Linked DNA regions of Homo sapiens. The protein of the gene in region 1 interacts with the protein of each later gene in a biochemical or structural test. Each region holds a gene or a part of one and is shown on either strand. Other genes may lie near its edges.

Region 1 (3,500 bases):
ATGAAGATAAAGTTGATCATGGTTTTTTTTTTTTTTTTTTTTTTTTTTTTTTTTGAGACAGAGTCTTGCTCTGTCACCAGGCTGGAGTGCAGTGGTGCGATCTCAGCTCACTGCAACCTCTGCCTCCTGGGTTCAAGCAATTCCACTGCCTCAGCCTCCCCAGTAGCTGGGACTATAGGCGTGCACCACCACACCCAGCTAATTTTTTGTATTTTAGTAGAGACGGGGTTTCACCATGTTGGCCAGGATGCTCTCGATCTCCTGACCTCGTGATCCACCTGCCTCGGCCTCCCAAAGTGCTGGGATTACAGGCATGAGCCACCGCGCCTGGCCACTAAGTTGATCATGTTTTATTTAGGTTTTTGGTTTCTAGGATGGAGGGAAGACCTGGAGTATGTTCAATTATTGGATAGTCTTATATGTGATTTTTTTTAATTGCAGTAAAATGTACATAATATTTACAATTTTAACTATTTGTGAGTGTGCAGTCTAGTGACAGTAAGTATATTAATAATGTGAGACTATCACCAGAACTCATTTCCAGAATTTTTTCATTATTCAAAACAGAAGCTGTATACCCTTAAGTGATAACTCCCCATCCCTGTTTCTGCCCAGCCAATGATAACCTCTATTTTCTGTGTCAGTGAATTTGACTATTCTAGATACCTCATATGAGTAGAATAATATTATATTTTGTCCTTTCATGTGTGTGTGTGAGGTCTCACTCTGTCACCTCTGCTGGAGTACAGTGGCACAATCATAACTCACTGCAGCCTCAAACTCCCGGGCTCTGATTATTCTCCCACCTCAGCCTACCAAGTAGGTGGGACTGCAAGTGTGTGCCACTATGCCTGGCTACTTTTTTTTTTTTTTTTTTTTTTTTTTTTTTGAGACAGAGTCTCACTCTGTCACCCAGGCTGGAGTGCAGTGGTGCAATCTTGACTCACTGCAACCTTTATCTCCCAGGTTCAGGTGATTCTTATGCCTTAACCTCCCTAGTAGCTGGGATTACAGACGTGTGCTACCATGCCTGGTGAATTTTTTTGTATTTTTAGTAGAGACGGAGTTTCACCATGTTGGCCAGGCTGGTCTTAAACTCCTGGCCTCATGTGATCTGCCCACCTCAACCTAATTTTTTTGTATATTTTGTAGAATCAGGGTTTTGCCATGTTGCCCAGGCTGGTCTCAAACTCCTGGGTTCAAGAGATCCATCTGCTTCAGCCTCCCATAGTGCTGGGGTTACAGGTGTGAGCCACTGCGTCCAGCCTATATTTTCATTTAGCGTAATGTCTTCAAAGTTCATCTATGTCATAGCATGTATTAGAATTTCATTTCTTTTGTATGTATATATCATATTTTGTTTATCCATTCATCTGTTGATGGACATTTTGAGTTGTTTCCAACCTTTTGGCCATTGTGAGTAATGCCGTTATGAACATAGGTGTACAAAATCTGCTTGAGTCCTTGCTTTTATTTTATTTTGTGTATTTTTTTTTTCCAAGATGGAGTCTTTGCCCTGTCACCCAGGCTGGAGTGCAGTGGAACGATCACAGCTCACTGCAACTTCCACCTCCCTGGTTCAAGCAGTTCTCCTGCCTCAGCCTCCCAAGTAGCTGGGATTACAGGCACATGCTACCATGCCCGGCTAATTTTTGTATTTTTAGTAGAGATGGGGTTTCAACATGTTGGCCAGGCTGCTCTCGAACTCCTGACCTCGTGATCTGCTGGCCTCGGCCTCCCGAAGTACTGGGATTACAGGCGTGAGCTACTGCGCCCGGCCCCTGCTTTTAATTCTTTTGGGTATATATTCAGAAGTAGAATTGCTTGATTACATGATAATTCTACATTTAATTTTTTGAGGAACTGCCATGCTATTATCCATAGAATGCCTCTGCACCCTTTTACATTCCCACCAGCAATGCACAAACACTTGTTATTTCTTATAATGGCTATCCTAATGGGTATAAAGAAGTATCTCTTGCAATTTTCATATGCATTTCCATAATGATTACTTTGTTGAGCATCTTTTGATGTGCTTATGGGCCATTTGTATATCTTCTTTGGAGAAATGTCTATTCATGTCCCTTTTGATTGTTATTGTTGTTGTTACTGAGTTGTAGGAGTTCCTTATATATTCTGATATTAATCTCTCATCAAATATAAGACTTGCAAATGTTTTCTCCCATTTTGTGGGTTGCCTTTTCATTCCCTTAATGGTGTTCTTTGATGCACAAAAGTTTTCCATTTTGATGAAGACCAATTTATCTGTTTTTTTCTTTCGTTACCTGTGCTTTTGGTGGCATTATCCAAATCCAGTGTCATGAATTTTTTCCCTTATCTTTTCTTCTAAGAGTTTTATAGTTTTAGCTCTTACATTTAGAACTTTGATATATTTTGAATAGTTTTTAATGTTGTCAATATACTTGACAGGACAATGGAAACTTGGTGGACAGTGAAATGAAATATTTGGGCAGTCCCATTACTACTGTTCCAAAATTGGATAAAAATCCAAACCTAGGAGAAGACCAGGCAGAAGAGATTTCAGATGAATTAATGGAGTTTTCCCTGAAAGATCAAGAAGCAAAGGTAAAGTGTTCTGTGGTAGTATCTTTGTATTCTTCATATTCCTTCATTCTGTTAAAAGAAGAACTAGACAAATTAAACTTAGGAGAGTTTATTTGAGCAAAAAAATAACTAGTGAATCCAGCAACCCTCATAGCCAGAACATGTTCAGTAAAACTCCAGTTTGCCATGTGGTCAGGCAGTATTATGGACAGAAAATGGAAATGAAGTACAGAAAATAGAAGTGAGGTACAGAGACAGCCCAGTTGGTTGCAGCCTTGAGTTTGCCTTATTTGAACATGGTTTAAACAGTTGATTGCTTGTGGTTGACTGAAGCTCAGCTGCTGTGCTTTCCTGAGACTCAGCTTTTTGATACAAAAGTATACTTCTAAATTAGGCTTTCAGTTAGTTTAAGTACTAAGTTAGGTTGCAACTTGGTATATAAAGACTCAAGTACAGAGGCATCCCCAGGCCAAATTTAGTTTAATTAAGAATTCATTCTTCTTTTTTTTGTTGTTTGTTTTTTTTAAGACAGATTCTCGCTCTGTCGCCTAGGCTGGAGTGCAGTGGCGCCATCTTGGCTCACTGCGACCTCCTCTTCCCAGGTTCAAGCGATTCTCCTGCCTCAGCCTCTCGAGTAGCTGGGATTACAGGTGTGCACCACCACACCCGGGTAATTTTTAGTATTTTTAGTAGAGACAGGGTTTCACCATGTTGGCCAGGCTGGTCTTAAACTCCTGGCCTCAGGTGATCTACCCACCTCAGGCTTCCAAAGTGCTGGGATTGCAAGCGTGAGCCACCATGCCCAGCCAACAATTCATTCTTGAATAAACATTTTATGCCTGATATGTATGAGTCACTCTACTAAATGCTAGAGCTACAGAGATCAACAAGATGTGATAACCTATCTTTATTTATTTATTTATTTTTGAGATGGA
Region 2 (3,500 bases), on another chromosome or scaffold:
CTGACTTCCTATTGTGCCTTGCATAAAACATTTTGCTAAAATTAAAAGCAGCTCCAAGTGCAAAAGTAAATATTTGTGCAAAAAGGCACACTGCCAGGTGCAATCTTAAAACATCGTCAACTTACTCATTTTATAGTGTTTGACTCTTTTAAATACCAGTCTTTTAAATTATGAAACCTAGCAAGTAAGGGGAAGGAAGTTCACATCAGAAAATACACTTTAGAAAAGGTACAAGACATTTTGCTGGCAATTTGCTACTTATTTCATAACATAGATCAAGTAAGTGTTTGTTAAATATTCACAGTAATTTCAGAGAGAAACATATCTCCAAAACTTCAACCTATTGCATTTTTAACTATTTTTCTGTACAATTTATAAAACATCTGTCAGTGTTTTTCTGAATAATTCCTTCTTGTCAGTCCTTCCCTCTCTGGATCCAGTTATACCTTCAAGGTGGGTTGTAGGATTCCTTTCTCAATGAGATGAGTCTTCAGGGTTTTATATATATTTAACTGCTGTTCAGGTTGAAGCACCAACAACTGCTGTAGCACTTTGCTGGGATTTGGGCCCCTAATGATAAAAGGCAAAGAAGACAAGTTCGTGTTATTTTAATAGGGATAAGTGAAGCACATACCTCCAATTTAAAACAAACCATTCCTTTAAGTGTAGAGTAGGAATCTTTACAGAATTAAAATAGCTCTTGATAATAGCTCACTTTAATGTGCAATGTTAGTGTCAAGGGTTACAGCAGAGAGGGAGAAAGAATGCACAAACACAAAACACAAGAGCAATGTAAGTCAATTGAAGGGGTGCAGATCTAAGTTCTACAAAAGCTCTTGAAAGGGCAACCAAAGTTAAAGGTGGGGATAAATGGCAAATCTTGAGATTGAATGAGACACAAAAACTATTCTGTAAGGAAAGGAGCCTGGTGAACATAGGACAAACCAAAAAGAGGGCATGAAAATATAATTGAAATTTTTAACTTCCAAGAAACTTCAGATGATGAAAGGTATTTTGTTGAAAAATATCTCCAGGGAGTTATGAATATTCAGAGTCAGAACACAAAAGTCCTGAGCCTAGCACTGAAGCCCCTTACCAGTGATACAGGTGCCGTGGACTTTGTTCAAAGACAGTCCTAGGTGAACTCCAATATAAAAAACAAAATAAAAGCAGATCTGCTTTAAAATCCAATGGGAAAAAGCAACATACAAGTCATGTATAGAGATGGCATAGAATTCTAAGAAAGACATTTATGTGGGTAAATAATGTATGCCTTACAGTAAAGATTGTTCACATTGAATTATAGAAAGTAGAAATCCCAGCAACAAAGAAATGTTTGCTATTTAGTGTTACCACAATGAGGATGAGCAGAGGAACTATTTACTCTGAAAATCTTTGACTTAACAAATTGCACAAGAGCCCAGATGAGCCATCCCACCAAGGGTCATCTTCATGCACGTGGCTCAACTCATCTGCCAAAAAACTTTCACACTCAGGTCAGGACACTGTTCGCCTTATTTCATTTCTTTAAAAGAGTCAGCAACTTCACAGCATAAACCCCAAGTAGAGACCAACAGAGAAAAGGAAGGCTGCTTTAGCAAGTTCAGCTAAATGCAAAATTGTGTCAGCAGGTGCTCCCAGCTAGCTGCATCCTGGCACTCTCAGTGTCTTCTAACAGTCTAAATAGCTGCTTTCAAATGGTGGACAACATGGCTCAGCATGACACCTCCCTACTGAGAGGACAGCATTTTTTTTTTAAAGAAAGCATATGAGTTAATGCCCTAAAAAGCTGCCATATTCTGAAAACAAAGTTTTAAGGATTTAACCACTAATTACTAATACCCAAATAGATCAATAAATAATATGCAAATAAGTTAAATAGTCCCATTAAAAGGATAAAGATTATCAACTGTCTTATAAATAAAACAGGGAAAAAAATCAGCTATATGCTTACTAGAAAAAAGAAACACATTAAATATAAGGAAAAGGGAATGTTAAAAATAAAAGGAGAGACAAAGAAATAACATGCAAACACTGACCAAAAGAAAGCTGATATTGCTATTTTAATATTCAACACAGTACGCTTTAAGGCAAGCAGTAAAGACAGACATTATATAATGACAAAAGGATCAATTCAATGGAGAGATATGACAATCCTAAATTTGTACATACCTAATACAACCTCAAAATATATAAACCAAAAATTGGTAGAACTACAAATAAAAAAATACATTTACAATCACAATGAGAGACTTTAACAAAGCTCTCTTAGTAACTGATAGAACAAGCGGACCAAACAAACACAAAAACAAATAAACAAAAATCAGTACAGAAGATTTAATTAAACCTCACCTAACTGACACAGACAAAACTACAACCCAAAACTACAGAATACACCTTTGCCCATGGAGCATGTACTAGAATAGATAACATGCTGTACCACAGAATAGATCTCAAAAATTATAAAATACTCAAATCATAGAGTATGTTTTCCGACCACAGTGGAATTAAGGGAGGAAAGTGAAAAAATCTCCATTTGTTTGAAAACTAATGAATATGCTTCTAAATAACCCATGTGTTAAAGAAGATATAATACTGGAAATCAGAAAACATGTAAATAATGAAAATACAAATATCACAACTTGCAGGAAGAGGATAAAGTGATACTTAATAGTCTTCAATGGATAAATTAGATAAGAAGGCTAAAAATCAATAATCTAAGCTTATCTCCAGAATTAAAAAAAGAACAGCATATTGAACATTTAAAAAAGGCAGAGAAATGAAAGATGAGAGGAGAAATCAATGAGGTAAAAAATTTACAGTAGAGAAAATTAACAAAGCCTGGAGTTGATATTTTTGAAAAGATTAATGAAATTGATAAACTCGCTATCAGGACTGTCTCTCAAAAATAGTTAATATAAAAATTCTCACACTACTGTGGTACATATTTAAAATGTGTATTTAGGGATTGCTAAATATGAATTTCCTTCCAAGTACTATGAAGGAAATCCATGTTTTCTACAGCTCAGGTACTATTAATAAGCATTCTGCCTTCTGGGCCCCCAGTAGAGACCACAGAAAATAAAGTTAACATGCAGTTGATGTTAAGCCTTCACACTCACACTGGTATTTCAAGGCAGATCCAAAACATTAAGGTTTAATAACAAGAATAAACCACCCTTTCTAAAATGGCAATATTCATCCACCCATCCACCAGCCAGCCCCTACACACACAGGCATGATCCCCTCGGCCTGCTTTATTTTTCTGTGTGACACTTACAACCATCTAACAAACTATATTTATTTGTTTATTGTCTCTTTCTCATCATTCTTTCTTCAACTTCCAAACAAGTAGCTATGGGGGCAGAGATTTGGTTTGTTTTGTTCTCTGCCATATTTGTCCCTAGAACATTCTACAATATGGCAGGCACTCAAGTAATAATTGGTAGACTGGATGCATTTCGTTATCTCCCTTTTTAACTCTTAGTATTCATGATCAT
Region 3 (3,500 bases), on another chromosome or scaffold:
ATAAAGCAGCATTTAAAAAGACTTGCTATTTACTGAGTACTTGCTTTGAAGTACTATGCTGAACAGTTGAAATGTATTTTTATAATCTTTACCATATACAAGGCAAGTAATATTGCTTCCACTTTACAGCTGACAGTCTGAAGCAGAGGAAGAAAGCAGAGACGCAGAATGACTGGCCCACAGCCAGCCGCAGTTATAAGCAGGGGGTAGTTCTGAACCCAGCTGGATGGGTCCAAGGCCTGTGCTCTTTCCATAACACCACATCCAAAACATTTTCCAGTATCTTTGTTTTGTAAATAAGTCATTACATAATGCCCAATATTGATAAGAACCAAATGTCCAAGAAATCCTATCTTTATGACTTCTTGCTCTGAAAAAAGGGGTTGCCCAGGATGTCTGCCCAGCAGTGGGGTTGCAGAAGTTCAGGAGGATGAGGAGATGGGCGTGGGCACCGCCTACCCCCCCCCCCACAGGTGAAGGTCTGAAGAACCACCTGGAGAACCCTAGGAGCACTGACATCCCCATTCAACTCGAGGAACAGCTCACAGCCCTAACACAAGTTACCACATGCAGAGCAAATCTGGAAGACATCTGGGGAACATAACGAAGGACTAGACAATTTCACGTTTTCACAGATGAAACTGCAATTAAACTATACATGCACGGTGCTGTGTTATTTTGGTAATACAGGGACACAATTTAATGATTCTAAGGATTTTTTTGTAGTTTTTTTTTTTTACAAGTCAGGTGCCATAAACATTCAAATAATCCATCTTTTAAAAAGTACGTTTACAACATCAAAAGAATTAAGATGAAATATAAACCTTTCTACTTACAATTTTTATACAGATTAACCAAATCACAAATACCACAAATAAATGTTAATGTTAAATTGTAACAATATAATGAATAAACATTCAGATTCTTAATAAAATCTTCCTTTAACATTTTTTAACTTACCATTATACTAAATAATCTATGCAGAATTTTGGGGTACAATACCAAGAAGGCACCAACAGTACAAAGCAGATACAAAGCAGTTTCAGAACTTTCTTGAGTGCTCTACACGCATAAACAGCACAAGAAAAGGCAACAAGCTTTAGGTAAACCTGGTGCAACCCTGGAGGACTTGCTCTGGATTTCCATTTGTTTCTGACCCATCATGTCAAGGTGGATGACGTAAGAGAAACCACATATTCACTGTTATAGCTTCTCATCTGCACCACAGGAGTATCATGTTTCAAACACCAGCATAACAATTTTAAAGCACAAATGCTTTAAAAATGTATAAGCAAAAGGATTGCTCAGATTTTCAAAACCATTACATTTACAAAAATATTTCCCTTAAACTTGGGATTGCTCCAAAACATTGATTTACAAATATAAAAGTATTATGGAAGGACCCAAAGCATGTGTGCGTATGTATGTGTGTATTAACATACTGTTACCATACTATATAAAAGTTACCAATTTAAAAACCATATTAACATATAAGCAAATAAAGAGAAAACAGTTTCCTCTGAATGGCTGAAATATTACGTGGCATGTGGTTGGGTAGTTTACTTTTGTGATTCCTTAGAGAAAACCACTGGTGAGCTACATGTAGCTTCTCAAAGCTACTGGTTACCTCTACACCCACTGCCTGTGCCCAAGAGCAGAAGGAATGAGTGTGCACACACCACACACTGTGCACTGCACACACAATACAGTATTCTTCTACCCAGATGCCACAATGTCTGCGTATCTCTGCTAGCTTTGAGGACCTGTGTCAGGACAGAGTCCTCATGATTAGTTCTTTCAATTCCATCCCACTGGCTTGTTCAGTATTTCTTTTATACTAAATGAAAGGACTGGAATGTTTCAGCAGGAATTTTTTGCTTACATTTTAGACACCAAAAAAGCTATTAGTCTGAAAGCTTATTTGAACATACAAATAGTGGAGGTGCTGTTCCGTGTCACTAATATGAATTAAGATGACCTAATCTGTACATTTTTACAAATGTAAGAAGAGCCAAAATGATGCATCTACTACACATGATAGCTAGCGCTTTTCATAGGTACCTTGGTTAGGACCATTCTCTGCCCAGTTACATTATGTTTGGCATGATTAATAAAAAGCACACAACTTATGGCTACAATGATTCTAGAATGAAGTTAGTGGTTTCATGCCAATCTGACTCCACAGTACCAGGAAGGGGAATGGGAAGGAGCTCACAGTCTCCAGATGTTAGTAGCCAAGGATATGGTTTTCTATTTAGAAGAGGACTCCAAATTAACCTTATAATAGTAACTTTCCATTTAAAAAGAAACAAGAGTAATAAAACTGTCAATGCTTTTTTATAAATGAAAACTGACTAATCAGTGTTATCCGGTAACAGTCACATTTCTGTGTCCCGTCAATGCTGTGTGGACCTTCAGACGGCAGCTCTGAGCACGCAAGTGAAAAGCGCGTATTTCAGGGCAAGAATAGAGATGTGGGTCTGTTTTCCGAGGATGAGCCAGCTATCCTTCCTCAGCCACAGGAGTGGTGAGCGTGAGCACCCTGGGCTGGGTGGTGAGGACTGCGTACTGTGGGGCGGCCCTTCCCAACTCTTGGCTGTGCCCAGCAGCACCTCTGGGGCACAAGGGCAGGCCCTCTTTAGAGAGAACCAGGGAATCCAACCTGAGATGTCGGGGCTTCTTTGTTAGGGTTTGACAGAATATTTGAGACCTAAGATTGTGAATAAAGGAACATGACAGCATCGATTCTCTGCCGAGCAGAGGTAAAAAGGACCCTACAGAAGTACCTTTCTAACTCATCTTATGTAAATCCAAGTGCTGGGCCAGTGCCTGGGCGGCAAAGTGAGGCCTGTGAGCATTTCTGTGTTCAGCACAACCTGAACCTGACTGTCCATTCAGACACGCTGATCCAGAGGAAAGCAACACTGAATCTTAACATGAATGTGAAGATAGAAGATGTACATTTATTTTCATGAATTACAAATGCATTTCTGTTCATATTAGCAGGCAGTCTTTATATAACCCATTCTCCATTGCTGTCAAAAATCAAACAAGAAAAAAGGACAGCTGAGAAATGAAAAGCTAAAAATAGAATTATTTTTCCTAAATGATCTGCTGGATAGCATTTTCCGTGGAACACAACTCAGAGGTAACAATAGAGTTTTCATTTCAATCGTAGGCATGTGGCACTTGGACAGTCATCTCTGCACAGAAAGCTGTAACAGTCATGCGAGGGTACAGTAATTATTGAACAAGGCAAATTTCTCACCACAGAGAGCAGTGGGGAAGTCAAGAGGAGGCACCGCACTGGGACAGAACACCGAGTCAACTCCACAGTACACAGTGGCAGGAACAAATACTTAAAGAGATCAGTAAAATATGGATAGAGCTCCAAACACGAGTTAGTGCTAGCTTTTTCTGACAGTCTGACTCAGCAGTATCAGAAATATTTGAGTACTTGAGGACAGAACAGTGCTTCACGTCATGAGCTCCTGGAGGCT
Region 4 (3,500 bases), on another chromosome or scaffold:
CAGGCTTGGGGCACTCTCCTCTGCTATGTGAAAACACCAGGACCCGGAGCGAGGCCTCCATCCCAGAAAAGCCTCGGGAACCACAGAGCTGGGGTTCAGCCACGACACACCCCAGGGTGCCAAGGAAGAAGGAGGCTGGGCCCGACGGCACCGGGGAATTTGGTCGGCCCAGAACTCACTGCTTCCCTGTACCCCAAATCCCCCATGTCCACCCGGCAGAAGGCAGGGCCACAGCAGATGACATGGGATGTGTCCGGGGTTACTGTGGCAGCAGAGGGACGGGCAGGACAAGCTCCTCACCAGCCCAGAGCCCTGGGGGGACAGCTGCCAGTTTGAGCCCCGAGGGACTGTGCGGCCCTGGCATCCCCAGCTGACCAGCCCGGCCTTGCCACAATCCCTATCACGGCTCACGGCTCCCCTCTCATTGTCCCCAGCAGAGAGAGCTCCACAAAAATCCCATCGGCTGGGGGAAGGCAACACAGTGACGCCATCTGAGCTGCTTCTCCCCACCCTCGGGCATCCTGGCCCACAAGCCATCTCCCCTCCTCGGCTGTCCTGAGGCTGACGCTGGCCCCAGTGGCAGGGCCAGGCCCTGGGCTCAGTCCCAGCAAGAGCAACCCCCTGGCACCACCCCACCATCCTATCCAAGCCACTTCACAGATAGGGAAACTGCGGTGTGGACACAAGTGACCACTCAGCCAGCGTCTGGAACCAAGTACCCTGGAGGTGGCCCTGCCCTGGGGGGCCTGCCCACAACAGACAGCACAGGAACGTCCTGGCCAGAGACCCCCAGTCACAACGGCTCTGTGGCTCTGGCCTGGGGCGGGGCTGCCTGCCCAGCTCCTTCCTGGCTGGAGGTGCCCGTGTGCTGTGGAAGGGACGGAGTCATTCCGCAGCCCCCCTGCAAACCCTGTGTGCAAGAAGTCACCACGGGGCTGGCAGAGGGACCCAAAGACCCAGGACGGCGCAGGACGAAAGCCAGGGACGGCCGCGGGTGCCAAGGGCCAGTCTCCGCCCCAGACACCAAAGATAAGCGGAGGGGCTGGGGGGGCTCCAGGCTCCAGGGGGCCCCACACATCTCCTGGCGCCTACCAAGGACCTGGGTACACCCAGGCCCCATCACAGATGAGCAGGAGGGAAGCTTGAGTGCGGGGACCAGGACTCCTGAAGCCACACCGGCAGGGCCTGCAGCCTAACCCTGGGGAAAGGGCTGCCCTGGGGAAAGGCCTATGCGGACTGGGGCCACCGCCTCCTGTCTGGACACCTCGGAGCTTGTGTGGGAGGGGAACCTCTGGCCCCCTGGCCTGGCTGGCCCTCTGTGCTGCCCTGCGCTCTGCAGAAAGTTAATGGCACCAAGGGGCTGCACAGGGGGCAGCTGAATGAGCCCCCATCTGGCCACCCCAGGTCTCTGAGAACCCAGCTTTGGGGCTGCCTCTCCACCCCCTGTATCCCCAGGGGGCAGGGCCAAGGCGCCTGACATGGCCACCCTGGCCACCACCCTTCCCGGGGCGGGTACCACACCTATTACCTCTGTCCGCACAAGATAACTCTCGGACCCAGGGCAGCAACGTCACCCCCGCCCAGGGAAGCAGCCAATCAGGGGCCCAGGCCAGCCCCAACCAGGCAGCTCAGGCAGCAGCTAGCCCTGCAGCTGATTCAGGGTGCCGAGGACACGAGGCCCGATGCTAGCTGTGAAGAGGGGCTTTCCCTCAGCATGGAGGGCCACTAGGCACTGCCCCCCAGCCCCTATCCTGACCCCTTCTCCCATACAAAGGGTTCCCCGGGGGCTCCCAGGCCAAGACACCCGCAGAGGCGACATTCCTGGCCAGGCAGGCTCCCTGTGCCCCCGCAAACCACCCACAGCTGGACTCAGCCCGACTTGCAGCCATCCCCGCTGTATCACGGGGATCATGCAGGCAGCCGTCCAGGCGCCCTCCCACCTCTGCCCGGGGCCGGGAAGGCCAGCCTGCCCTCCAGGGCCCTGGGCTCCAGCTTAAGCCAAGTGGGCAGTGATGGCGTGAATGCCCTGGGCACCCCCATCCCCCTCAGGCCAAGGTGCCCAGAACTCCCACTGGCCCTACCCAGCCCCACCCCAGCCCAGCTCCATCCCAGAAGTGTCCATTCCCCTCAGCCAGTGCCATGAGGCTGCCATGGCCACCCAGGAAAGGCAGCTCTGTCCTCATAGGATGGTACCCCCAGGGCAGACAGGACCCAAGCTCAGCCCAAGGACGTGGCACCCAACGAGGAGCATGGTGCCCAGAGAGACACATGCCAACCGATGGGACCTTGCCATCCACTGGGGGTGGTGCTGTCACTCTCCAGGGTTCGGGGAGGAAGCCAGGCCCAGCCTGCAGCCCAGGCCCCTGGGGCAAAGCAGCGTAGGGCAGCCACGGCCTCCGTGGGCCCCGGGACTGAAGGCAGAACGAGCCTGGGAAGCTGGAGGCGTCCAGGAAAACGAGGAGTTTCTCTTTAACAGCAGGACTTTCGGGAGCACTGCTCTGTGGGTGGGGCCTGGCTCCCAGCTGCTGGGCCCAGAACACTGGCCCCTCAGAGGCGGTAGAACAAGGCCTGGACCTGGCAGGCCGGGCCCTGAAAGGCAGCCGGCTTGGCACAATCCGTGCTTTGTCCCTGCAGCCTCTGCCCCAGCCCAGCCTCCATCTTGTCCAGAGCCCCAGGCAGCTGGCTCAGGGCAGCCTGGCCCGGCGGACATCCCTGGGGTGAGGCCTCAGGGAGATCTGCAGGCCGCTTGGTCAGCCTAGGCTAGGACCTGGGGCTTGGGCCTGACACAGGCACCAGCCCTACAGGTGAAAGCGGGGCTGCCCTGCACAGAGGAGGTGGCAGGGTGCCGTTAACTTCCTGCAGAGCACAGGGCAGCACAGAGGACCAGCCATGTGAGCCCCAAGGGGCCTGACAGATGCTGGTCTGCCGTCCTCCTGCGCGGTACGGTGTTTCCAGCCATTGGAACCTCGCACAAGCTTCAGGGAAACCCCATTCTACACTCAGGGGCCCTGAGGTCCCAGTCCTTCCACTTCCGAGGGGCCAGGGTCCAGGTGGGCTGTCCAGAGCTGAGGGCAGGGCCCAGAACTGCACAGTGATGCCCCACAGTGCCACCATCTAGGCACAGCCCCACATAGGTGGATGCCGGCGGCCGGCAGTCACGGGGACCAGCCCGCCTCCTCTCCTGGTGCCGGCTGCCCAGCAGGGCTGCTGACTTCAGAGACAGCCTGACCCTCCCCAGGTGCCCAAAGAAGCTAGTCTGTGCCCAGTGAGGACTGGAAGGCACAGAAGCCCTCAAGCAAGCGCCACCAGGTGATGGCAAAGGGGCCTTCCCGACGGCTCCTCCTGAGCGCCAGTGGCCGACGGGGAGGCACAGCCCACTCAGGCTGTTCCCAGGGACTGGGGTCTGACCTGCCCTCGGGCCAGCCTGGAGGGGGTCTCCTGTCTGCTTCAAAGCACCCAGAGCGCCGGAGCAGGGTGAGGCCATGATGAGAGGGCCCGGG

Evidence for each region. The genes of interacting proteins can lie anywhere in the genome.
Region 2: of the proteins of CDC25C (region 1) and CDS1, one has a biochemical effect on the other in vitro, tested with the Homo sapiens proteins (one study listed by BioGRID).
Region 3: the proteins of CDC25C (region 1) and MAPK1 form a complex in vitro, tested with the Homo sapiens proteins (one study listed by BioGRID).
Region 4: of the proteins of CDC25C (region 1) and BRSK2, one has a biochemical effect on the other in vitro, tested with the Homo sapiens proteins (one study listed by BioGRID).

The regions. Positions count from the first base shown.
Region 1 is NC_000005.10:138,318,305-138,321,804, reverse strand, and holds part of CDC25C (M-phase inducer phosphatase 3), read left to right. Parts: intron 1-2,430; coding exon 2,431-2,586; intron 2,587-3,500. UniProt on the Homo sapiens protein: Functions as a dosage-dependent inducer in mitotic control. Tyrosine protein phosphatase required for progression of the cell cycle. When phosphorylated, highly effective in activating G2 cells into prophase.
Region 2 is NC_000004.12:84,645,627-84,649,126, reverse strand, and holds part of CDS1 (phosphatidate cytidylyltransferase 1), read right to left. Parts: intron 571-3,500; coding exon 441-570; 3' UTR 1-440. UniProt on the Homo sapiens protein: Catalyzes the conversion of phosphatidic acid (PA) to CDP-diacylglycerol (CDP-DAG), an essential intermediate in the synthesis of phosphatidylglycerol, cardiolipin and phosphatidylinositol.
Region 3 is NC_000022.11:21,759,646-21,763,145, forward strand, and holds the end of MAPK1 (mitogen-activated protein kinase 1), read right to left. Parts: 3' UTR 12-3,500; downstream 1-11. UniProt on the Homo sapiens protein: Serine/threonine kinase which acts as an essential component of the MAP kinase signal transduction pathway. MAPK1/ERK2 and MAPK3/ERK1 are the 2 MAPKs which play an important role in the MAPK/ERK cascade.
Region 4 is NC_000011.10:1,396,434-1,399,933, reverse strand, and holds part of BRSK2 (serine/threonine-protein kinase BRSK2), read right to left. Parts: intron 1-3,500. UniProt on the Homo sapiens protein: Serine/threonine-protein kinase that plays a key role in polarization of neurons and axonogenesis, cell cycle progress and insulin secretion. Phosphorylates CDK16, CDC25C, MAPT/TAU, PAK1 and WEE1.